2 separate regions of the Homo sapiens genome follow, and region 1 is linked to region 2. The links come from fine-mapping of genetic effects on gene expression. A gene starts in region 2. The other region holds a variant in brackets. All regions are shown on one strand. Distances are between the middles of the regions. Region 1 overlaps DGAT2 (diacylglycerol O-acyltransferase 2). Region 2 holds the start of DGAT2 (diacylglycerol O-acyltransferase 2).

Region 1 (12,122 bases), 28 kb before region 2:
CCGAAAGGAAATGGCTATCCTCTGACCTGAGCACTCTAGCCTGAGGCCTGCCTGGCGCTAGAAGCCAGCCTCTGTTGTCCCCTCCCAGCACTCCTCCCACTGCTCTGCCTTTCTGCCCACATAGAAACTCTGGAGACACCAGCTCCCCACCCTTCCAAGCTAAGCCCCACTGCTGTCTCTGCCTCCTCCATCTTTCAAACCGGCAATGTTTTTCCAATCAGGCCTCCCTATCCTTCCCCTACTGCTCTGCCCTTCACTGCCTTCCTTTCCTGGCGACTCTCAGCCGCCCTTCAAGGCCCAGCTCAGGCGTTCTTTCCTCAGTGACGCACCCCCGGGCAGGCTGGGGCTTCTGGCACAGCTCTGGCCACCCTGCGTATCTTCAGCTGTTCCCAATGTTTGTCTCTGCTCCCAAGTAGCTCTCTCACAGTTTCTGGCACAGAGGAGTTGGCCCTGAGGGGGATGAACAGCAAGGACAGGCAGGACAGTTCTGGCAGTAAGGAAGTTAGAACAAGGTCCTTTGGTCTCGGCTAGGAAGGGTTCCCAGGTGCTTAGTACTCACTGAACAGAAAGGAATTAGAAAAGAGGTGGCATCTTGTAATCGCTAGGGTGACAGCAGGCCAGGCCTCTGCCTTTTTGGTAGAGCTGAGGCCAGGGGCAGGGAACACAGCTTGAGTGACCCATAAGGAGCCTTCCAGCTCAGCCACCCAAGGGCCCCCCAGCTGGACAGGAGCCCTTTACCACATGGTAGGCATCATGTCAAGTGGCTCCCAATGACCCCTGCCCCCTGGCATCCATTCCCTGGTGTAATCCCCTCCCGTCCAGTGGGAGCTGGACCGAGCAATGTTCATTTAATGAACAGAATATGGCAAAAGTGACAGGATATCACTTCCCAGGTTAGGTTATAAGGGCCTGGGACTTCCGTCTTGCTCGCACACTTCACTCCACTCACTGGCTCTTCTTGCTAAGTAAGCTGGTGTGCCGTGAGCTACCCCATGGAAAGGCCCATGTGGCAAGGAACTGAAAGTGGCCTCTGTCAACAGCCAGTGAGGAAGTCAATCCTGCGAACAACTGCAGGAACGGCCTTGGGAGTGGATCCTTCCTCAGCCCGGCTCCAAGACAACTGCAGCCCTGTGAGAAACCCTGAGTGGAGGACCAAGCCAAGCCTCAAATCGTGACTTGGAACTGGGAGACAACAGATGCTGTTGGAAGCCACTGAGCTCTGAAGTAGTTTGTTACACAGTGACAGGTAACTTACACACCATGGCAGGGTCATGTGGGCCAAAGGTGCAAGGGGCTAGAGGGCTCAGAGGGCAGCCAGCTGGGGACCCAGTCTTCCCCAGGTGTCAGCAGCAGATGCAGATGCAGCCCCAGCAATAACTCATAGAGGATTCTCACTTTCATTTATTTTCAAGGCATATACAAAAGTCTGACATGGTGCAATGATCTCATCAAGAGATAACAGAACACACAGGAGAGGGTTGGGTTTCCTCCCCGGCCCAACCCCCTCAGGAAGGCACAGAAAAGTGAGGCTTGGGTTCGGGGGCCACCTGCTTTGGAACTAATCTGCTGCTCAGAAGGCCAGGCCCCTTCTGAAGAGGGATCTCTTCCTCACATCCAGAATCTAGGATCTGGGGAAGGTAAACTGAGGCCACCAGTAAGCATGTGCTCCAGGCCAAGGCTGAGTCTGTGCTGCATCCATGTCATCAGCCACCCAAGAAAAACCAGTTACTCCACCTAGCTCATGGTGGCGGCATCCTCCCTGCAATGGTGCATGGGGGGCAGTCCTTTCCCCTGCAGGGTGTCATTGCCACCCCCATCCTCATCCTGGAGGCCAGTCCAGGCTCCGATATGAGTGACTAGGGGTGAGGTAGGGGTGGCAGAAGGGAGATCAAACTGGAGCATTCCAGATGCCTACTACTGCCCTCACACAACGGGGCAACTGTGCTCTCCAACTCCTCCCCTTGGCAGAGAAACTGGTCCTGCAGTTTCAGGACTAGACGAGCGTGGGGTAGTGGCAATAAAGGGGCTTGTATGAGAAGTGGCTTTCGCCTCTCATCCCTAGGGGCAAAAAGTGAATCATCTAACTGGTCCAAGTCACTAATGGCAATCCTTCTTCCCCAAGAAGACTGAGTTTCCTTTGTCACTTCAGGAAGGGAAGAAGAGAGGTTAGCTGAGCCACCCAGATTAGGCCCAGATTTAGCCACCACCTAGAACAGGGCAAGCTGGAAGTGAAAGAACTTGAAATACTGACTTTTTCCTTCTTAAAAAAGACCTAACATTGTAATGGTTTAGCAAAATTGTTATAATTTCTTTTAAATAACCCACAGACACCCATGACACTTCCAAATTTACAGAGCAAAAAAGTGATTTGCAGCTGGTTCCTCCAGGGAATTGGCCCCGAAGGCTGGCTCAGTTCACCTCCAGGACCTCAGTCTCCGGGAGGCCGAACTTGGTCTTGTGCTTGTCGAAGAGCTTCACCAGGGCCTCCATGTACATGGTGTGGTACAGGTCGATGTCTTGCTGGGTTGGGTGCTCCAGCTTGGGGATGGTGATGGGCTCTCCCACTGCAGGGACAGGGCAGAGGCTTCTGGTTAGTCAACACCCTTCCCCTGGGCATCCACCATGATGCTGAAGGTGGTGACGCTGGGCTGTGGGCCCGCCATGTGGAAGGAACTGTGCCAAATGCTTTATGTGCTGCATCTCTGGTTGTCCCCTATTACAGATGAAAAGACTGAGGCCCAGGGGCATGTGAAGGGACCCACCCGAGGCCACCAGGTGCTAAGCTGCAGATGGGATCAAGACTGGTTGAACCCACTGCATTCTGCTAGGAGGGTCTATGAGAGTCAGGGGATCAAGTAAACATCTTTGCTTTTGCTCTGCTCTGGGCAAGCCATTCCTGCCTCTCTGACCCTCAGTTTCCTCATCTGTCACATGGGGATTCTTCCTCATAGGGGTTTTCTAAGGATTCTGCAAGGAATGTGACATGCTTTAAAAAGTGTAGGCCAGGAGTGGTGGCTCACGCCTGTAATTCCAGCACTGTGAGAGGCAAAGACCCGCAGATTGCTTGAGCTCATGAGTTCAAGACCAGCCTGGGTAACATGGTGAAAATCGTCTCTACCAAAAAAAAATACAAAAAATTAGCTGGGTGTGGTGGTGCACGCCTGTAGTCCCAGCTACTCAGGAGGCTGAGGTGGGAGGATCGCTTGAGACTAGGAGGCAGAGGTTACAGTGAGCCGAGATTGCGCCACTGCACTCCAGCCTGGATGACAGAATGAGACCCTGTCTCAAAAATAAAAAAAAAAAAAATAAAAAGTGTGGTTAAGGGCAGGAGAGGAGGGAGTAGACCAGCATTTATGATCTGTGCGTTGCTTTATTTTCTTATCCTGCTGCATCTCCATACCCAATCCATTCCTATGTCCTGCCAATGCTATTTCTGAAATTTTTCCCAAATCATGCACATCTCTTCCATCTCCACTGCTACTCCCTTGGTCCAAGCCACTGGCTACCAAAACAGTCTCTGGGCTGGTCTCGTGGCTTCCATTTTTCTAACCCATCTTCCATCCAGCAGCTCCAAGGATCATTTTTAAATGCAAATCTGAACTTCCCCTCCCAAACACTCTCTGGTGGCTCTCCATTCTCAAGGTGAAGAGCAAATTCCTTCACATTGCCCACAGGACCCAGCCCCTCCCCAGCCACACCTGTGCATGGAAATGTTCCTGCTGCCTCCCTGTTGCTTTGTCTCTACCTAAAAGTACAAGGCAGGACACCTGGCCTAGGAACGCAAAGGATCTGTGTGAGCTTTGGCCCCTCAAGTCCACTGCCAAGGGCCCATGTGCTCCTGGGGGATCCATTAACATGCACACACACACCTACAATAGGTAATTCTTTAGAATCCTCTAAATGGTCCCAAATACACCCAAAACAACACAGACGAGGGCCAAGTGCAACCAGTGTTTTCCACTCTTCTGACAGGTCTATGCTGCAGTCATATTAATGTTTTTCTTTCTGTTCTTCAAAAAAACTACACAATCTTGCTTCTGAACTTCACGTAGGCTATTGTTTCTGATAAAAATTCTCTTCCTCCTCTATTTTGCTAGATAATTCCTATCAGTTAGCAGTGCAAGAGTTACCTCCTCCCTGGGGTCCGCTATGACTCCCTAGAGCACCTGCGCATCCTCATCACATTCCCCCACTAGTCTTTGCTGCAATAGTCTTCCCTGATAGACTAGTGGGTGCTGCAAACCCAGAGACTGCAGATTTTCTTTCCTCACTTATCACAGAGCTTGGTTCATCCCATAGGCTCAATTCCCCGACTCCTACTACTACCCCTCCTGACCAATATCAGCACCCAACACTTCAAAGTCCTCATGGCTAAGGGCATGGCCATCAGAGCCAGGTGGCCTGCATTGGAATCCCGTCTCTACTGCTGATTAGCTGTATGGCACCCTGTGTTCAGGACAGCCCTTGGTCTGCAGGCTAGGGGCTTACCAACAGTGGTGATGGGCTTGGAGTAGGGCACCAGCCCCCAGGTGTCGGAGGAGAAGAGGCCTCGACCATGGAAGATGCATGGGGCGAAACCAATGTATTTCTGGAACTTCTTCTGGACCCATCGGCCCCAGGAGCCCTCCTCGAAGATCACCTGCTT[G/T]TACACTTCATTCTCTCCAAAGGAGTAGATGGGAACCAGGTCAGCTCTGGAAGGGAGAGGCCAGGGTCTGTCATACCCTACTTACTGGCTTCAGTTTCTATGTCAGCCTAGAGGCCCTGGACACTGGCCAAGCATCCCCCTCCCCCAGCTGGGTGTACCAGAATTACCTGGGTGTCCCAAGTTCACATGATCCCTCTCTACCAGGTTCTGATGGGCCTTCTGCCCCACTGCTAGGGACTGGGGAGCATATCAGAGCTCTGGGTCCCCCAGGCAAAGGGAAGGCTGAGCGCCCTGCTCTGGAATGCCTGTTTTCCACCTCTTCCTGCAGGGCCTGCCTCTGCCAGGAAGTTCTCTTGGTCCCTCCACCAAACCAGGCCTCTCTCAGCCCTGGACTCACCATTGTTTCACAGTCTCAGCACACTGTGTTGTCACTGTCCATCCCTCTACCCTCCCCCACCCTTGGTGCTCCCTGAAGGCAGGGACTGGGTCCAATATGAATGTGTCCCCAGGGGCTGGCCCAGGGCTGAGCCTGCAGGGCAGCCTCTTCTTCCAAAGCCTGAGGTAAGGTCCCCAGGGGACAGAGAAAACAGCTGCTGTCCCCCAGCCACATTCCACACCACCCTCCTTCCTGACCTCCTGGTCTCCCAGCAAAATGATATATTCTGGCCCCAGGTGGTCCAGTCCTGCATATAAGCCTGGACTCTCGGCCCACCTGCAAGGGCCCACAGGCCACAGGTTGCATCTGTGCCCACCCAGACACACATGGGCAAACTTGGCCCACACTGTGCAGTCTGGGCTCCAACATCCCCTCCCTAACAGAATGACTGACTCCCTTCCATGCCTTCCTGGGGTCTGGGTCCTGTCTTCAGGGGCCAAGGAGTCTGCTGCCCTGGGCTGAGGGGCACTGGAGGGGTGTGTGTGTGTGTAGGGAGGCACTCACCCATGACGCAGGGCCAGTTTCACAAAGCCCTTGCGGTTCCGCAGGGTGACTGCATTCTTGCCAGGCATGGAGCTCAGAGACTCAGCCGCACCCCCGACCACGATGATGATAGCATTGCCACTCCCATTCTTTGAAAGCAAATAGTCTATGGTGTCCCGGCTGACAGGGCAGATACCTGAGGGGAGGGAAGGACGCAACAGTCAGGGTTGCCCATGGATCCACTCCCCATCCCCGGCACACAGTCAGGTATAAAACATAAAGAACCCTGGACCTGGGCCCCAGACCTAGCCCAGCCCCTTTGGAGTTGTCTGGTTCTGTGTAAGCTATTCATTTTTCTGAGCCTCAGTTTCCTCATCTGTAAAATGCAGCTAATGATACAAGGTTGTTTTGGGAACTCATGCATTTGGCAAACATTCCCAGGGCCCTAATTCTGCCAAGTCGGTGCGAGGTGTTGGGGATCCCAATGCATCAGTCTGGTGGGAGGTCTCAGGCAGGTGGACAATTACAGTGCCATGGACAACAATCAGGTTGTACAAAAGGCAACACAAGGGCTGGGGGTCCCCAGAAAAGGGGGTCAAAGAAGGCCTCCTAGGGAAGATGTTATCCGAGTTGAATTCTCAAGACCATATGGACAGCTCTCCTCCTCAGCCCTGACCCACCATGTCTGAAGCAGGTTGCATCTCCCAATGCAGGCCCAGCACCAAGGAATGGTGTGTTGGCTCCCTGTGTCACCCTGCCCGATGGAGAGGCTCAGGCCTTGACAACAGTGCCCAGCAGGAGCACAGGGGGTGGATTCTTACCTCCAGACATCAGGTACTCCCTCAACACAGGCATTCGGAAGTTGCCTGCCAGTGTAGCCAGGTAAGGCCGTATGCCTGGGAACTTCTTGCTCACTTCTGTGGCCTCTGTGCTGAAGTTGCAGAAGGCACCCAGGCCCATGATACCATGGGGGTGGTATCCAAAGATATAGTTCCTGGTGGTCAGCAGGTTGTGTGTCTTCACCAGCTGCAAGGATGACCTTGGGTCAGAGGAAACTGGCTGGGAGAGGGATACCGGGGCATACCCGGAGGGTAGGGAGGGATTGGATGTGTCATTTCCCCTGGACCTCCATGGGCCTGAGGGCTGCAATGAATCTCCACACCTTACCTCAGACTCTCATCCCCAGGGCCACAGTGCTGGTGTTGGGCAGTCACCATTTGCACTGTGGGTCTCTGGGAAGGGGTGGGCAATGTTTGCCCTTGTTCCTCTCAGTCTTCAGCCATGCACACAGCAGCTCTTCTTTGCACTCTGCCAGCCTCCTGCCTTCCCTCCCTCTGGGCCCATCCTTTTCGCAACAGCCAGAGTGATTATTCTAAAACTCAAATCCAACCCTTGTCACTCTTAGACTGGAGAGTGTGTCTGGCTTCATGTGAGTAAAGTCCAAGTTCCTGAGTTTGGCAACCGGGGCCTTGGCTGCAAGCTCTGCCCCCACTGTCAGTCTCTCCAAACTGTGAGCTCCTTGGAGGTAGGGTTTACTTGGCCCTGTGCTCTGTGGGCTCCTCCACAGCTCACAGAATGAGACAGGCAGCCCACCTCCTACTCCCCTGGCCTGGAAAAGGGACACTGCAGCTGGCCCAAATGGAAACTTTCCCACAGTCAGCTGGGCTCAGTTCAGGTTCTAAGGCAGGAAGGACAAGACAGGACAAGCGACAGCCCTGTGCCAGCCAGCCTGGGGTAGAGGTTAGTTGTAAGGCTGCAGCAGCTGAGGACCTGACCTGTGGTACTAAGGACACTGGGATGCTCTAAACGATGATTGGCTTCCTCAGGGCCCACCTCCTGCCCTGGGGCTGGTGCTTGAAGGGGTGGGTGATGCAGTGTCCCTAAACCCTGAGTCATGAGAGGCAAAGCCTGTGACACCTACCCTGTGTTACAAGGAATGTGATGGGGGTGGAAGAGGCTGAGAGAGACAATGAGTAAGGGTATTCTGCTCATAAAAACATCATTTTTATTCTGATTAGAAAAATAATAGGGCCAGGCATGGTGGCTCATGCCTGTTATCCCAACACTTTGGGAGGCCAAGGTGGGAGGATTGCTTCAGCTCAGGAGTTTGAGACCAGCCTGGGCAACATGGTGAAACGCTTATCTCTACAAAAATACAGAAATTAACTGGGCATGGTGGCACGCACCTGTGGTCCCAGCTACTCAGGAGGCTGAGGTGGAAAGATGGCTTGAGCCCAGGAGGCAGAGGCTGCAGTAAACCGAGATTGCACCACTGCACTCAAGCCTGAGTGACAGAGTGAGAAGAAAGGAAAGAAGGAAAGGAAGAAAGGAGAGAAGGGAGAGGAGAGGAGAGGGGAGAGGAACGGAGGAGAGGGCAGAGGAACGGAGGAGAGGGGAGAGGAACGGAGGAGGGGGAGGGGAGGGGAGGGGAGGGGAGAGGGAAAAGAAGAGAAACTCCTAGAGAATTTTAAAAATATAGGAAAGCAAAAAGAAAATTTAAAAAATCCATAATATTTCCATCCAGATAAAACCATCTGACGCATTGAGTCCTTTTTCTACTCAAAAATATACATGCTCTTTTTCAAAACCCACAAAATTGAGGTTATATGGGTTGATATCATTTTTATATCATTTTCTACCAAACATACAGCTATCTGTCCTTATCAAAATCCCTCAGTTCCATATCTTCTCGTGGCTGCATTTGTATTCTACAGCACAGCTCTCATGCATGTAACAGCACTGACTCAAACCCTGATTGATGGACATTTTAAAAGCTTCCAAAATTTCCCTCTTAGAAGTAATGCTTCAATAAATACCTTATCTTTGTCCACATATCTGATTGCTTTTGTGAAACAAACTTCTAGAAATACAATTCCTGGATAACAAGGAATGAACACGTTGGTCTTTTTGGCTGCCCTGCCTCAAAAGAGGTGACATCAATGACACTCCCACCTGAGTGCTGCAAAGTGCCCCTTCCCTGCACTGGTGCCAGCTGGAAGCAGAGTCACTGGCCACCAGCAGAATGTCAAGAGCCCAGGTTTTCTGTGACTCCAGATTTGGGAGCCTCCTGGCAGAGCTGAAGGACTTGTGTGCAGCTCTGGGGGAGAGGGTGCTGGTGGCTGGCCTTGGAAAATTGAAATGCAAATCTTCAGGTGACAGAGGGGATGGAAAAGGCTGGCTGGCACCACTCCCAGCTCTGACGCTGCCAGTCTGTGCAAATGTGAGCAAGACTCCCTCACTCTCATCCCCACTGCTTGGGGCACTGATGCTCTTTCTCCCGCTTTGCCCTTGGCAAACAGATTAAAGTTGCTCAAAAACCAAACCAACTCTCAGCTACTCCCCAAATAAATGGGAAACAGCAGCAGTCTAATCCATAGCTAGTGGGGCTCGGGGCAGCGAGCAGATCTCAAAATCTCGTTTACATGAGCTCTGTTAAGATTGCTGTTCCAATGTTTTGCCTAACAAGCAGGTCTGCCCACCAAGTTAGCTCTCAGTGAAGCTGGAATTAAAAAGTTCCTTGTGCTAGTTTTGATGAAAAAGGCAGGCAGGCATTGAGGGAAGAGCTGGGGCAGCCAATACCAGGTGGGAAACTTGGAAACTTGCTCCTGAGCTGATGGCCAGGCCTGGGATAGTTACCCTGGCAGGTGACCATCACGCCGTGCAGCATCTTTTTGTCCCCTTCCTATGGCTCCCCCGACCTTCCCACTGGGCCGATAACCAGGAACCCACAGCACTGCATGGGCTGGCAGAGCCCTGAAAGGTCTAAGCCATTCCTTGGATGACGGGGGGAAGCTGAGGCCTAGAAAAGGGAGCTGCAATTCCCCTGTGGAGGTCACAGCAAATTATCCTGCACATCTGGAGCAGGCCAGTCGCTGCACTTTTCCCTGGGCTGCTGGATGAAGATGTGTCACCCAGTGGGCCCCAGGTGGCTCTTTAAATCATTTCCTCCCTCCCCAAGGCTCTGATGGGACATTTGGTTGAATGAGGTGCCTTGGGACACAGTGCAAGTCAATGCCCTTGCTGTAGGACCCAGAAGAATGTAGGCATCTGACCAGCTCTGATCTGTTTTCATGTCACACTCCCCTCCCCCAGGGCTGGAGAGAATGTCCGTTCTGGAAGGAGGGGAAGGATACCGCCAATGAAGGTTCTGTTGACATGCCTGCTCTTGTGTCCTCTTGCTGCCTGTTTCCCGTGGCAAAGTCCCAGCCCAACACGATGCCCAGGCCCGGCCTGCTCGCTAATGTCAGTCTGGGACACATTCCTATCAAGTCACTCTTTATACCCTCCCTCCCAGGAGAGGCAAGGTGCTCAGATAGGCTTGTCCCACCACAGCAGTGCATAGAGGAAAAAATTCAGACCCACAGAAGAGCAAAGGCTTGCTTAAGTTTACACAGCACGGCATGGTGATGGTGAAAGTAACACAGGAGTAAGACCATGGGCCCCAAAGCAGACAGCCCTGGTTCCTACACTAGTCCTGCTACTACTTAAGCTTTGTGACCTTGGGATAGTCCCTCCTCTCTGTGCCTCAGTAAGCCTATCAGTGAAATGAGGCAGATGGACAGGTGATTCTAAGCTTAGAGAGAGTGTTTCCTAGTCTCCTCTCCAAGGATTCTGCCTACACTTTGGGGAGAGGTGATGTGGGGCACTGTCTGCTCCTCTTCCAGGTGGCTGGTGGTCTCGGTGGCTGTTGCTAACACAAGAACCCCACCTGTGCCAACAGAAGGGATACACTCTGGGCCAGATGAGCTGTTCTGGCAGCAAAGACCAGAGTCCCACCAGGAAGGGAGTAGGTGGGCGGGTGGGTACAGCGGCAGATCTTCATTACATGATTACTGGCAAGAGGCCAGGAAAAGGGGGTGGGACAGGAGGGTCACACACACCCCCATAGAGTGTCAGACCTGATGTCAGATCACCAAGGCCAAGTGAAGGGGAGATTGAGGCCCAGAGGGAGAGAGGCAGGCTCAGCCTAAGCCCCGGGTTGATCAGCCTAAGCCCCGGGTTGAGGCTCAACACCCCAGCCTGCCTCGGGCCCAGTTTGGCTTTTGTCCTAGTGCCCCAGGGAGCCCTCACAGGGCCAGGTTGTATGTGCCCTAAGGCTCCAACTCCCAGCTGACTTCTTGGAACAGAGATGTGAGAAGGACACAGGGGTTTGTTTGGTTCTTTTGGAAGGGTGGAGATCAGATAGCAAAGGACACCTGCCTGTCCCAGGTCTGACCAACAATCATCAGGTCATCCTGTTCTAAGTGGATGGGGCTACTGGCCTCCTGGAGACTTCCAGAGGACCAGGCCACAGTGGCAACAGAGAACACTGGAGCCTGGCCCCTGAGGTGAGAGAGAAAGCAGAAAGAACAGTCTATCATCACTCCCACCCAATCAGAACTGATTACTTTTCATCATACAGACAGCTCCATTTTGCAGATGAGGCTCAGCAGGCTTGAGAAAGTCTGCCCATGGCCCCATGGCAGAAAGTGACAAAGTCTATCAGGATGCAATAGACACCCCAAGGGCAGGGCTGACTTGTGTCCCCATGCCCAGCACAGCCCTGCACTGGACAGGGAGCAATGGTGGCAGGTTAATAAATGGAGTGACAGGGCAGGAACTTAAACTGAGATCTCCAGCAGCAACGGGGGAGAGGGAGACCCAGGAAGCTGGAATCAATCCAATGGGGAAATCCAGGGATTGAATCTCTCCCAGAGAAACAGGCAGTAGGAAATCAGTGGAAAAGAACCTGGGCCCTGAATTCAATAAGCCTGGATGGTGGTTGCAATGTTGCCATCATACTAGACTATGCAGCCTGGACAAGTCCTGCCCATCTCTGAGGCTCAGTTTCTTTACCTCCAAAATTAGAGGGTTGGGTCCTATGATGCAACTTTCTCCCAACAAAAACAGCTTCAAATTTTCTGCAGTTAGAGAGATGGGGTCAGGAAAAGGAGAAGGAACGCTGACCCTGAGGAGCAGGAAGGTCCCGGGAAGACTGGGCTTAGGCTAAGGATGAGCAGAAGGAGCTGGCCCTGCCACCCCCAAAATACCGAATGCAGTGAAGGATGCAGGGTTACCCAGCCACTGCCCCCAGGCAACACACCAGGATCTCAGTCACTGACTCACAACAGCAAATATACACCACCCTGCACCCTGCACAGAACTCTTTCACATTCACGTGCTGCCTCCACTCTTCAGCACCCCTACCTTCTGCAGGGTACTCAGCAGCTAGGGTGTGCTGGAGCTGGGGTGTGGAGTGAGCTGGCCAGACAGGTCTTTCCCCTGTGGGGAAAACCTTCAGGATCCTGCCAGAGTTATCCTCAATTCACCAGGATTGCCCACATGCATCAGGGCCAGATGGCTGTGCCTCACCAGCCCAGCTTGCAGACCAGGCAGGGGCCAGACAGAGCTGAGACTGAAAGCCAAACTGAGCCACCATTTCCCTGTCAGGACCTCAGGGCTGGCCCAAAGAAGATGGATACTCAGAAGAGCAGTGGGGTCCCCAGCACAGCCAGTGACACAGTAGAAAGGAAATGAAGAGACCAACTTGGTCTAAACTTGCTTCCCTGTGGGTGGGTT
Region 2 (12,122 bases):
TGGGCCATCAGGACCCTGCAGGCACTGTCAGTCCTCAGGGCCTGCTGCAGGGAGCCAGGCATCCTGAGCATCTGTAGACCTGCAGGGGCGCTAAGCCTCTTCCTCCCCTCTCTAGGTTTCCCCATTAGCACTAAATTAGGAAGCTGGGGTGGATTTGTTGAAATCTGAGTGCTGCTAACTTGGGCCACCTGTGCTCTGCTAGAATCCACAAATGAATTTTTATCCACAGAAGATCTCCCGAAAGGGAATATAAGCCCATCCTCGGGCTACTCCATACACCTGGGTTTTTGTGTATTCCGTTTTCATCAAGTAGAACTTTCACAAAGTTCCAAGAGGTAAGGCCAAGGAAGTGAGACTCTTAGAATGCCATGTTCCTGATACCGAACATGGATCTACATCCAGGACCCTGGACATGATTGCTGAGGACCCCAGGGGCCCACTTCCCCCACCCCACCCACTGTGACCAAGCACATTCAAAAAGTAGCTACTGCAGTGGAAGGGGCTGCCATGGCAACACTACTAGCTTGCGAGTAGGTCACCAAGGAATCTCCAAAATACGTCCCCATCACAATATATGGGCAAGCATGGGGAGACAGGTTCTTCTGGGGCACTTACCTTGGCCCCAAGTGGATGAGTGCACCATTTTCACAAGGAGAAGCTGAGGACAAGAATGAGGAGGTGGCTGACCTCAAGAGTCCCACAGCAGTTAGGGACAAGAATGGAATCGCATTTCTCCAGCAGGGATGTAAGGAAGCCAAGGGGGTCATCTCAACCAGTCCTCCTCACTGTGCAGATGAGAAGGCTGAGGCCCTAAGAGGCAGTGTTATACCCAAGGTCACATGGGAAGCAGAGGCAGGGCTTAGAATGGCTAATTCTGCTCTAATAAGAAAAGGAGTTTGTGTTTCCCATTTCTATTGATTTACCCAAAAGGTTCACAGGGTGTAGCCTGTCTGCATCTGCACCATAATCTGCACAGGTTCTTATGACACTTTTGCTCATTTCATAGATGAGGAGACTGAGGGTAAGGAAGGGTAGTGGCTTGCTGAGGCTGCGGAGCAGTTCGGTGGCCAAGCAGGAGCTGGACAGAGCCCAGGCCTGACTCCTACCCCTGGGCCCTGCCCATGAGGCCCTCAAATCAGCCAGCAGCTCCATACCAGGAGGCCCTCAAAGTGCTGGAGGCCAATAAACTAACTGCACCAGGCTCCTTTCCCATGAGCTCTCAAGTCTTCCTCCTGCTGCAGACACAGGTGAGCCACCACAGGCCTGGATCCAGCATCCTCTCTGTCTCTCTTGTCTCTGGCTCTCAGTACACCAAGACCTCAGCCTCAGTTGGTCACTCAGAGGCCCTGCAGTCAGTCTGCCTCTCCCATCCAAATCTCATGCCTCTATTTATGCTATTTCCTGTACCTGAATGTTCTTGCCTGTCTTGCTGATGTCTATTCATCTTTCCAGATCCGGACTGAATGTCACCTCTTCCAGGAAGACTTCCCTGACCTCAGGGTGATCAAGCTCCCCGGTCTCACCTCTTGGCAGTCTTTCCTGTCATTGCTCAGATCACTCTGCACAGTCATCTTGTGTACATCCCCCTGGTCTCACTTCCTCAAACGCAGGGACTGCAGCTGACACACAGAAGGTGCTCAATCAATAAAATGAAGGGTCCACACCCCAAGTCCCTTCCTCAGTGAAGCCTTCCTGGATGCCCTAGAGCAGGGTCTGCCACTCTCTACAGTGTTGGGGGCCTGCTGAATGTGTAACACAGGACAAATGACAAGGACTAACATGAATGTCACAAGTTCACAAACACTCACACTCAGGTTAACTCAAACCCTCCATCCTTGAGAATCTGAGAATTCTGACCCTATTTTCCAGATAGAAGGAGTGAGATCCCCAGAGAGGAAGTGAAGCCCCCAGCCACATCCCAGAAAAATGTCAGGCCTGGAACCCCAGCTCTCGGGCTTCTAATAAGCCCTGGGAAGCAGTAAGGGTGACCATTGAGACTGGCTCTGCCCACTTGCCACTCAGCCTTGGAGCCAGCTCCTTGCCAGACTGTGGGTACCTCCAGGGCAGGGAACAGCTACAACCCCAGCACCCAGTCCCTAGCACAGGTGGTTACAGGGACAGAGGAGGCCCAAGGAAGGCTCGAGGAATCACACTGAAGCTAAAAGCAGGGCTTCCTCCAAGAGGAATGGGGCAGTCCCACTAATGATTCCTTCGTTTAACAGATACTTACTAAGTACCTATTACCAGTGCCAGGCACTGTGCTAGATGTCACAGCACTGAGAAAGACAGACAAGGTTCCTGTTTCCAAGGGACTCATATTCTTTTTCTGTTTGTTCTTTTTGTTTTGTTTTGAGATGGAGTCTCGCTCTGTTACCCACGCTGGAGTGCAGTAGCACAACCTTGGCTCACTGTAACCTCCTCCTCCTGGGTTCAAGCGACTATCCTGCCTCAGCCTCCCAAGTAGCTGGGATTACAGGCACACACCACCACACCTGGCTAAATTTTTTTATTTTTAGTAGAGACAGGGGTTTTACCATGTCAGCCAGGCTGGTCTCGAACTCCTGACCTCAAGTGATCCTCCCACTTTGGCCTCCCAAAGTGCTGGGATTACAGGCGAAAGCCATGGCACGCGGCCGGCAAAGGGACTGATATTCTTACTGGGGAGACAATTGCTTAAACAGATAAGCACGCATGAAAATTTAGGTAGTGATAAAGGCTATAAAAATAAAAGAAGATGTGGTGATTGGAAGTGGCTCTCTAGATTGGAAGTGGCTCTCTAGATAGGGTGGCCAGGGAAGACCTCTGAGAGGAGATTGACTGTTGTAAAGCCAGCCATGCGAAGACCTGGGCAGACAGGCAGCATATGCAAAGGCGCTGAGGTAAGACTGAATTGGGAGTAATGCTGCAGGAACAGGAAGACCACCATGCGTCTGCAGCATGGTGGGTGACATACTAGGAGAGGAAGTCGTGATGGCAGTGGAGGCTGTTCACCTGGGGCTTACTTCATAGGCCAGGAGGAAGAGTTTGGAAAGTCTGAAGTGTGACTGAGTGTGGGTAGGGGGCAACTGGCATTCACCTGGCAGCCAAAGCTCTGGGGGATCTTAGTGCTCTAATCCACTAGGGCAGGCTTGGGGAGCTTCCTCAAAAAGTTTGAGAAGGGATGAGCTGCCACCCGCACCATGGAGACAACCTTCACTCATTCAGCAAACCACTGAGCACCTACAATGCACAGAGCCCTGCACTCAGCCCTTCACGGCCTTGCAACCCTTCTCTTGGCTTAAGGAGTCAGGCCACAGACTGGGAGATGGATCTGAGTTCTAGCCTGGCTTTGATAACCCTGGGAAAGTCCCTTCTTTCTGGAGACTCCAGTGATCCCATCTGTAACATGAGGGTTGGGCCCGATCCAGCACTAATTTTTACAACTCAAGTACTTGCTGTTGAATTTGAGGGCAGGAGGGTGGAGGTGGGGCAGGATTTCAACACTGACCATTGAGTCACTGAGCCTGTTAATACAACATTACTCTTGGCCCTCCTTTCTCAGCCTAGATGAGCCCTTGGTGACGCAGCCCCAAAGTGGCCTCTATTCAGCTGGGGAAGTGATGTAGGTGAGGGGGGAAGCCACACGGAATTGGAGAGGGAAGCATGAGAGTAATGTTCTCATTCTGACTTAGGACTAGGTTAGGTGACTGTCAACCCTCAGTTCCCAGTTACCCCCAACAATCTAGCCACTTAGTTTCAAGCAGATCCACAGTGATGTGGAACTCCATCCTCACCCACCCCAGCCTGTTGCAGTCCTCAACAGCTGTCAGAAAGGACTCCTCTGCTACATCAAAACTTGCACCCATCATCCCACTCCTATTCCTGGCCTCACTCTTTGGAGCCGCACACAACAAATCAGCTCAAAATTTTACTGGGACCACCAACATCTCATGCTAGGTCCTGTGCTGAACCCTGAGGACACAGGCAGGTGTCAGAGGGCTCTTCTGAACGAAGAGCCCCCAATCCAAAGGCAAGGATAAAGAATAGGATATATATCCCTCCTGTCCTGATGAACTCTGCAAACTCCACGTCTGGCACAGGACAGCCCTCCAAGGATTAGGAAATATCAACACAGACTCCCGCTTCCCCCAGCATGCACCCACCTACCCATACTCCCACAGCTGGCCTTTTTTTTTGGCCAAGAAACCAGATGCCAAGGTATCTATTTCAATCTCTCACCCGTCACAGGACTTCCCTTCACAGAATCCATGGTCTCTACTTGAATACTGTCACTGACGGGCTGTTCACCAGCTCACAACAGTGGGACCTTACCCACAGAGGCAAACTAGGCCACTGGGGAGTATCTTCAAGGACCAAGGATCTAGAAGGCAGGTCTAATGGAGATGCCCAGATAACAAAATGTGCTTCAGTGCCCTCCCCTACTCCACCCAATCTTTCACCAAAGTAGATCCCAGAAAGCTGAACTGACTGGTTTGCATTTCATACCAGCCCTTCCTACATTCCATGATGTAAATCCTTGCACCCAGTTTAAAAAAAAAAAAGTTTTCAAGATCTGATAACAACATGGGGAAATGTTCCTGACATGATATTAAGTGGCTTGGTTAAAACCATTCGCTAGAGTACAAGTTCTCCTAAGGAACAAACTCTAAGTCAAAAACATGACAGCCAGGGTCACTGCCTCCTGGAAGACACAGCTCCCAGCCTGTGGATGGCAGAGCCGACGGAATGGGGTCTCCAGGAAGCACTACCACAGAGAACATCCCTATCCCACTGCCCAGTGCAAAAACATTTTTAACAGCATGAACAAGGGCAAGTCCATTCATCCATTGATGTCCCTAAGGACATCAAAGGACACAGGGAACAGAAAAGGACTCAAGTGAGAGAAGGGGCTGTCAGAGGCTACTGGCTGGATACATGGGGCAGCTCAAGCTGCTCGCCCCCGAGACAGGGCAGCAGCTGGGTTCCTCTTCAAGGGCTACGAGCAGCACCCACACCAAGAGGGGCAGATAACCACAGCGATAATCACACAAGAAGCAATGCCAATGCCTAGGTCACAGTTAAAGTGTGGTACAGCTGCAGGGTGGGTTATTGCAACCACTAGGACATTGTAAGTGATTCTGATTAACAGAAGGGAAACCTCGATGTTACATTAAGGGGGAGAAAACAAGATTCATAACTATATCTACAGCATGTCCTCAATTGTATCTATGCAATGTGTATAAAGAAAATGATCAAGAGATATACTAAAATGCTAATAGGAAGGTATCTTTGGATAGTCGATTTACCAGAAATTTTTTTCATTTGTCTATATTTTCAAAAATTCCATAATTAGCAAGCTTTATTTTTGTAACAAAGGTGGGCGGTGTAGGCGACCGTTAGTTACTAAAGAAAAATCCATGTCAGAGAGGCTCAGCAAACAGAATACAGACTTAGAAAGAGGGAGAGGGGCTTCATGCAAGACACACACGCAGACCAGGACAGCTGTGATGACTTCCCAGGGTCTACCGGATTTGTACTTGAATCCAGGGGTCAAGGCATCAGCTAAGGAAAACTTAGGCATGCTTCCTCCCACTTCAGTTTCTCCAGCTCTAGGTAAGGGAGGTGGGGGTTGGAAGAGTTGCTATTCCTCGCTTGGGAAAAGCTGCGGGGGGTGCGGGGCGGGGGTTGATTTCAACTCTGCGCGATTCACTGAGGACCTCAGTTCTACCTTGGAGGACATGCAGGGTCCTCTCCGCTGCCTTCTAAGCATGCCAGGCTCAAGAGTTGCTGCTATGTGGGCTCCAGAGCCTGGGCGAGAGGATGGATGTGGGACAGAGGACAGGGCAGACACACCTGTTCCAGTCGGGCATGTTCCCCGTCTGGTGGCTGTCTCAGGAGACGGCAAAACCCATACCATCCTGCCCATCCAGTCTATCACTGCCAAAGCTCGCTCTACCTGGTGAAGGGAGAGGGGAGGGAAGTGCCAGGGGTCACCAGCCGCAGTGGGGGCTGGGGAGGAGTTCTCGAATATCCCTAATAACTAAGAATGGTGGGTGGTACCGCTCCCACCTCACGGATGAGGGAAACAAGCTGGGGGGCGGGTGGAAAGCGATGTAACAGAGGTCGTAAAAATTGATGAGTGCCACAGTGGAGAATGAACGTGGACTCATCAGTACCCACCAGCCTGCCACAGGGCCCTTTCCAGAAAATCTTCTCGCAGGTCCATAACCCCTGCGCCGTGGCACTCACCCCATCTCCCAGACCCCTCGCGCGACAGCGCAGGTCCTCCGTGAGAGCGCTGGCTCCGGTCAGCCTCGGCCTGACGCTCGCCGCGCAGGACCCCGGAGTAGGCGGCTATGAGGGTCTTCATGGCTGAAGCCCGCCCAGTCACGGCCCCGCGGGAAGCCGCTTCACCCCGCGCCCCTGGCCCATGCCCCGGCCCCCGGGGCCAGGGCTTCGCGCAGAGCACAGGGGTCCCGGGACGGCGTCGAGGCTGGGCGGCTAGGACACCTGGAGCTGCGGCCGGCGGCCAGTGGTGGCGCGAGAGAAACAGCCTAGACCCCAGCAGAGGCGGCAGCCGCGGCGCTGGCGTCCCGGAGCGCAACACTTTATCACCTCACAACGGGGCAGGCGCCGACGCGGCGGGCGGGGCGGGCCGTTCTAAGCCGCCGCCCGCGCCACTTGCTTGTGGGGGAACCGCACCTGAGGCTCTGCTTGGCGCGGGCCCGGGGCTGGCCAGCAGCCTGCTCCGCGCGGATCCGGGGAATGCGTGAGAGGAGAGCAGCTCTGAGCCCTGCTTCCAAGGGGCGCGCCCGGTTATTCCCCTCGCTCCCTCAGTCCGACCCCGGGCGCTCCCCCGCGGAGATTGGTACGGCCCGGCGGCCAGTACCCGGGCGGGGAAAACCAAGCACGTGCGGTGCAGGCAGAGGGCGTGCAGGGGGTCGGGCCTTTACTCTTTAGGAGGGGCTGTCTTTTGGCAGCAAAGATGCGAAGGTCCCGCTTTTGGTCACTGGTATCAGGATTAGTTAGGTTAGGGCTGGGTATCTCAACCACCCAAACTGCTTCTGGCTTTCCATCTCTTTATTAAGAAACCTCACAGAGCACCTATACCCTGCTGGGTGCTGGGGACCCAGCCAGATCAGCCCAGGTTCTGCCCTTGGGATGCTCACGCTGGGGGGCAGCAGAGACAGCCGCACACAGTCACTGGTGACAACGGCCGGGACAAGCGAGAAACCAGGGGGCTATGGAACCACAGAGTAGAGAAGACTCTGCCCTGGGCTGGGGGAGTGGGGGCGCTGGTGCACTTCCCAGAGAGGTTGGTGCACAGCAGGTTTGGAATCAGATAGACTAGGAGTCCAGTTCTTGCCCTGCCTCTCTTGAGCCTCAGTTTCCATATCTGTAAAATGGGAATAATAATTATTATTTTTGTGAGGTACTTTGAGAAGTAAATGAGATAAGGTATAAAAAGAGCCTAGGTAGTGTCTGGCACATAGAAAGCATTCCAGAATGGTTTGCCCATTAATGAATAGGAATTTTGCAGATGGAAGGTGTGAGGGCAAAGCAGAAAGATAGGCATAAAGTGTTAGAAAAGCCAGCATGTTTGGGGCAGGGCTGGGGGCCCTGGAGTGGCTGGAGCCCAGGCAACTGTGGAAAATGAGGCTGAAGTGAGAGGCGCGGGTGCTTGAACTGAGAGAGGTTTGGGAGTGCCACTCTTGAGATATTGGGGGGGAGCCGGGTCTTGGGAGAGCTTTAGTAGGGAAATGGCTGGTCAGGTGGGTTTTAAGTGTCCTTAGCCATGGTATGGGAAATGGACAGGAGAGGCTGTAGGTCAGGAGGGCAGTGGGGAGGCTGTAGGGGCGGGGGATCCATGTGAGAGAGGATGAGCCTCAAGGCACGGCAGTGGTAGAGGGAATGGAGGGAAGGCCTGATCTAGGGAAGAGCATAGGAAGCGAGATCCACCAGCATGTGGTGGAGCGACTTGTTGGATGGAGGCTCAGGGAACGAGTGGGGACAACAAGCATGTCAGTGATAAGACAGATTTCTTAGGCATAGCTGGAGCGAGATAGCTGTGGGGTCACAGCATAAGAGGAGAGGAATTCCCTGCCTTTGTGGTCTTTATCATGTTCTCACAGGGGGAGAGGAGAATGACAGAAGTTACAGGCACAGGGCAGCAGGTAATAGATGCCTCTGGTGCAACCTAGAGATGCTTCCATTTGTTCAGCCCTCTCAAGGCCACAGGAGTAAATCTCTCAACCGTGTTACTGGGCCCCAAGGCCCGAATTGGCCAAGAGTAGAAAGAAAAGCATTCCAGGCAGAGCTCCCAGCATGTGGTGAGGCCATGAGGCTGGAAAGATCTTAGTGCCTTTTAGGAAACTGAGGGTAGGCTAGTGGCATGCCACATGTGGGGGATGGGGGGAGACATGGGGACTGGTAAGTGCAAAGGCTGGGAGGTAGAAACAGGTGTGGTTTGTTTTTGGGCAAAGAGGAGTGAAGCCAGGAGGATACTGAAGGTGCCAGTAAATCCTGGCATCCTCTCCTCAGAGAGGGTGCTCTTGGAGGCAAGACTCCTGCTGGCCTGGAAGATCCCAGGTCAGTCTGTGGCTCGTGCCTGCTCCAGAAGGGTCTCCTGTGGAGGAGGCCTGGGCTGGAACTCATGGCCCACCCACTCACCCTGGGCAAGTCAGTATCGCTATCTTGTCTAGGTTTCCTTTTCTGCATTATGAAATGGAGGTGACAGTTTCTGTTTTGCTGACTTCACTTGAGTATTTGAGGATGAAGTGAAATCACAGCATGTAAAAGAGTGTTATCACTGTGCTGTAATGTAAGAGATCATTGTCTTAAATGGCAAGATTTGGGGTTACCAAGGCCTATTTGAAACATTCAGATCCCAAGTTCATCTACTTCAGCACATTTTTGCTATGCACCTTCTCTGGGCCCGGCCTTGGTTAGGACACAGAGAGTAATCGGACTTAGTCCTTGGCTTTGAGGAGACCCAATCGAGAGATGGTGTCCTAAAGCCAATGATCCCAAGACAGCCAGCCTGTGGCACAGGGTAACATGGAAGGCTATGCCAAGTTTGGCCTTTCCCCCTGTGCTGTCACTGTCTGCCTGCCTCTCCACGGAGCCAGGCGTTTCCCAAGGGCAGGAACCTCATCACTCTATGTCCCAGTGTGGGCCTAGCTCGGCATAGACGCTTAGTCCAAGGTGGATTGCCCCCTGAAAAAGTATAGTAGAGTCATAGAGGAAGTAGAGGGAATGGTAAATTGGGAAGGTCAAGAAGAAGTGATATTGCTGCAGACCTAAGATGAGAAGTCTGATTCTGTGAGGCAGGGGGAAAGGGGAAAGGTGTCAGGCAGAGGGTACAGCATGGACAAAGGCCTGGAGGTAGGAACCCTGTGAGCACCCTGGTGTGGCTGAAAGAAAGATACAGGCAGAAGAGGGGTAGGAAATGAGGCTGGAGAGGTTGACAGGGCCCAGATCTGAACGGCCTCGTGGGTCCTGCCAGGAAGCTTGGACTTCATCCTGTGGGGGGATGGACCAAAGGAGGGGTGTGAGCAGAGATGCACCTTGATTGGATTGGTGGGTTAGAAAGATAAACTGGGGCCCAGCGCGGTGGCTTACGCCTGTAATCCCAGCACTTCGGGAGGCCGAGGCGGGTGGATCACGAGGTCAGTAGATCGAGACCATCCTGGCTAACACGGTGAAACCTCCTCTCTGCTAAAAATACAAAAATTAGCCAGGCGTGTTGGCAGGTGCCTGTAGTCCCAGCTACTCGGGAGGCTGAGGCAAGAGAATGGCGTGAACCCAGGAGATGGAGCTTGCAGTGAGCCGAGATTGTGCCACTGCACTCCAGCCTGGTAGCCTGGGCGAGAGAGCAAGACTCAAAAAAAAAAAAAAAAAAGGAAGATAAGCTGGGTTGTTGGGGTGGAGGTGGGTGCTTGGGGAATAGGGCCATAAAATCTGGTCCCCAGCTTGGGCCCTTCCTGTGTGGGAACATCTGTGAGAGGACGCAGAGGTGAGTCCAAGGGCTGAGAGGCACAATTGCTTACTTCTGTGCCACCTCACAGAGCAAGCAGCCCCTGGCATCCCAACTTCTAGAACACTCCTTCCCCTTGGCCTCCAGCCGCCATGCCCATGGGTACTGCTTAAACAGCTTGGTCCAAATTGGATTTGGAAGGAAAACCAGACCCAAACTTAGAGTAGCCTGGAAAGGAAGTTTCATGGCAGCTTCCTGTGTCCTGGGACTGTTTTCCCCTGTGTGAGTTTGGGCAAGGGGGACTTACACCAGACTCTGACTTCTCCTGGCCCCCTCCCATGCTTCTTGACATTCCTAGCCTCCTATAATGACCAGCCCTGACCTTCCTGCAGGTGTGTGAGCAGAACAGCTTGAGAATGTGTTCTAGGACCTGGTTACCTTTCCTTCATCATCTCTCAACCCATGTGTATATTGGGAAAATCAGAGACCGGTCAAGTCATGCCTCCAAGAAGGGCTTGACCAGGGTGGGCTTTGTGGTCCCACCAAGAAGCTTGGACTTCATCCTGTTGGGGGATGGACCAAAGGAGGGGTGTGAGCAGAGAGGCATCCACAAGGATGGCTCATCCTCCACCCACTTCAATCACCAGTGTTGTACAGCCATTGGGGATTACACGTGCAGCTTTGTAGCTTGTGAGAGGTTTGACGCATGCACCTCTGAGATATGCTTCAGTGATAGCAGTCTTAGCTCCTCCATTGCACACATGAGGAGGGTAAGTGGCCAGCCTATAAGGCAGAGAGGACACTTGCCCTAAGAGAGGCACAGGTAGAAAGACAGAAACAAACGTGTATCAAGCTCCCTGCTCTGTGCTAGGCCCTGGCTTGTGTGAGCTTGCCCAGTCCTCACAGCCACCACACAAGGGGTGATCACCCCCACCGCTTTGCACATGGGGTGCAGGGAAGTAAAGTGACTTGTCCTGGATCACACAAGGAGTAAGTAGTAAAGCTGAGATTCACACCAAGTCTTCCAGAGCCTCAAACCTGTACGCTTTTCCTGCCTCCCAAGGCTGGGAGAGGGAGCACCTGTAACAGCAGAACTACTGGACGAAAGCAAATTCCCATCCATCGCCTCCACAGCCCTGGGAGGTTAGTCCCATTTTGCAGTTGGCAAAATGAAAGCTCAGGGAATCCAATAGCTTACCAGATGGGGTTGGGATGTAACCAGTTCTCATGCCACAAGGCTAGGGCCCATTGGGGTTAAACTCCTTTCAGTGCTCAACTCACTTGGAGAGTGGGCGGGCAGGGTTCTGGCAAGCAGAGGCAGCCTGGCATGGCCCTCTAGCCTGGAAACTCACCCGCCTCCTTACTCACAGGAATTTGCCAGCCAGAGCAGCTGTGTGGCATGGCTGCACTCCTCTTGGAAGTCTTTGCCTCCCACGTCCAAGCCCCCTACTCTCCCTCTTCCTGGTGGCTTCCCCACATGCTGCTGCTGCTTTGTGGTCAGGGGCCTGATGGTATATAGTCTTGGGTGGCAGGCTACAGAGTCTGGACTTTATTCTCAGGGCAATGGGGAGCCATAGAGGTTTTTAGCAGGAGTTTTATGCTTTAGAAAGATCATTGTCCAGGCAAGAACATCTTTAACTGTCATCTCCATGGCACCCTTCCTAACTACCTCTACCTTATATTAGTCAGTGTCCCTATGGGAAACAGCCCACCCAAACTGGGTAATTTGAGGACAGTTTAATACAAAGACTGTTTGCAAAGATGTAAGCAGGCTATAGAGAAAACTCAAGGGATGGTGCAGTAGCCCAGGACTAGTCACCTCACAGGGGATCTGGCCTGAAGGACTAAGAGAAGGACACTGCAGGTGCAATGGGGGCTGAGCGGAGAGGGCTGCCACATGGAAGCTGTGGCCTTTGCTGAAGGGGCACAGACAACCCACAGGGACCTGGGTGATATTGGATGGAAGGGAGGGAGGCAGATGAGAGGAAGGAGAGAGATAATGACGACAGAGCCTGAACTGAAGGGGTGGCAAGGCAAAAGAGAAGCGAGGGTGATTTTGAGAGATGCTGAAGCTTTAGAGTCTCTAGGATTTGATGGCATGGATGTAGGGCTGAAAGGAAGGAAGGGGGTGATTGAAGATGGCTCCGGGTTTCAAACCAGAACCCAA

What was found. PIP is the estimated chance that this variant, and not a neighbour inherited with it, causes the effect.
Region 1: its variant is fine-mapped to the expression of DGAT2 in whole blood (TOPMed, PIP above 0.99).

The regions. Positions count from the first base shown.
Region 1 is chr11:75,790,796-75,802,917 of GRCh38, reverse strand. DGAT2 (diacylglycerol O-acyltransferase 2) reads right to left here. Exons shown (of 8, transcript NM_032564.5): 5 at 6,386-6,590; 6 at 5,586-5,760; 7 at 4,489-4,691; 8 at 1,384-2,564. The coding sequence ends at 2,410. Among named protein-coding and RNA genes, the nearest start is that of UVRAG-DT, 18 kb to the left of the region's middle. RefSeq lists a silencer at 5,758-5,807. The variant G/T (reference allele first, on the strand shown) is at 4,646.
Region 2 is chr11:75,763,219-75,775,340 of GRCh38, reverse strand. DGAT2 (diacylglycerol O-acyltransferase 2) reads right to left here and starts at 6,563. Exons shown (of 8, transcript NM_032564.5): 1 at 6,229-6,563. The coding sequence starts at 6,349. It overlaps DGAT2-DT (DGAT2 divergent transcript), which reads left to right and starts at 6,694. Exons shown (of 4, transcript NR_046090.1): 1 at 6,694-6,847; 2 at 10,348-11,098. RefSeq lists enhancers at 1,486-1,715, 1,856-2,005, 6,760-7,260, 8,567-8,786 and silencers at 6,244-6,483, 6,564-6,673.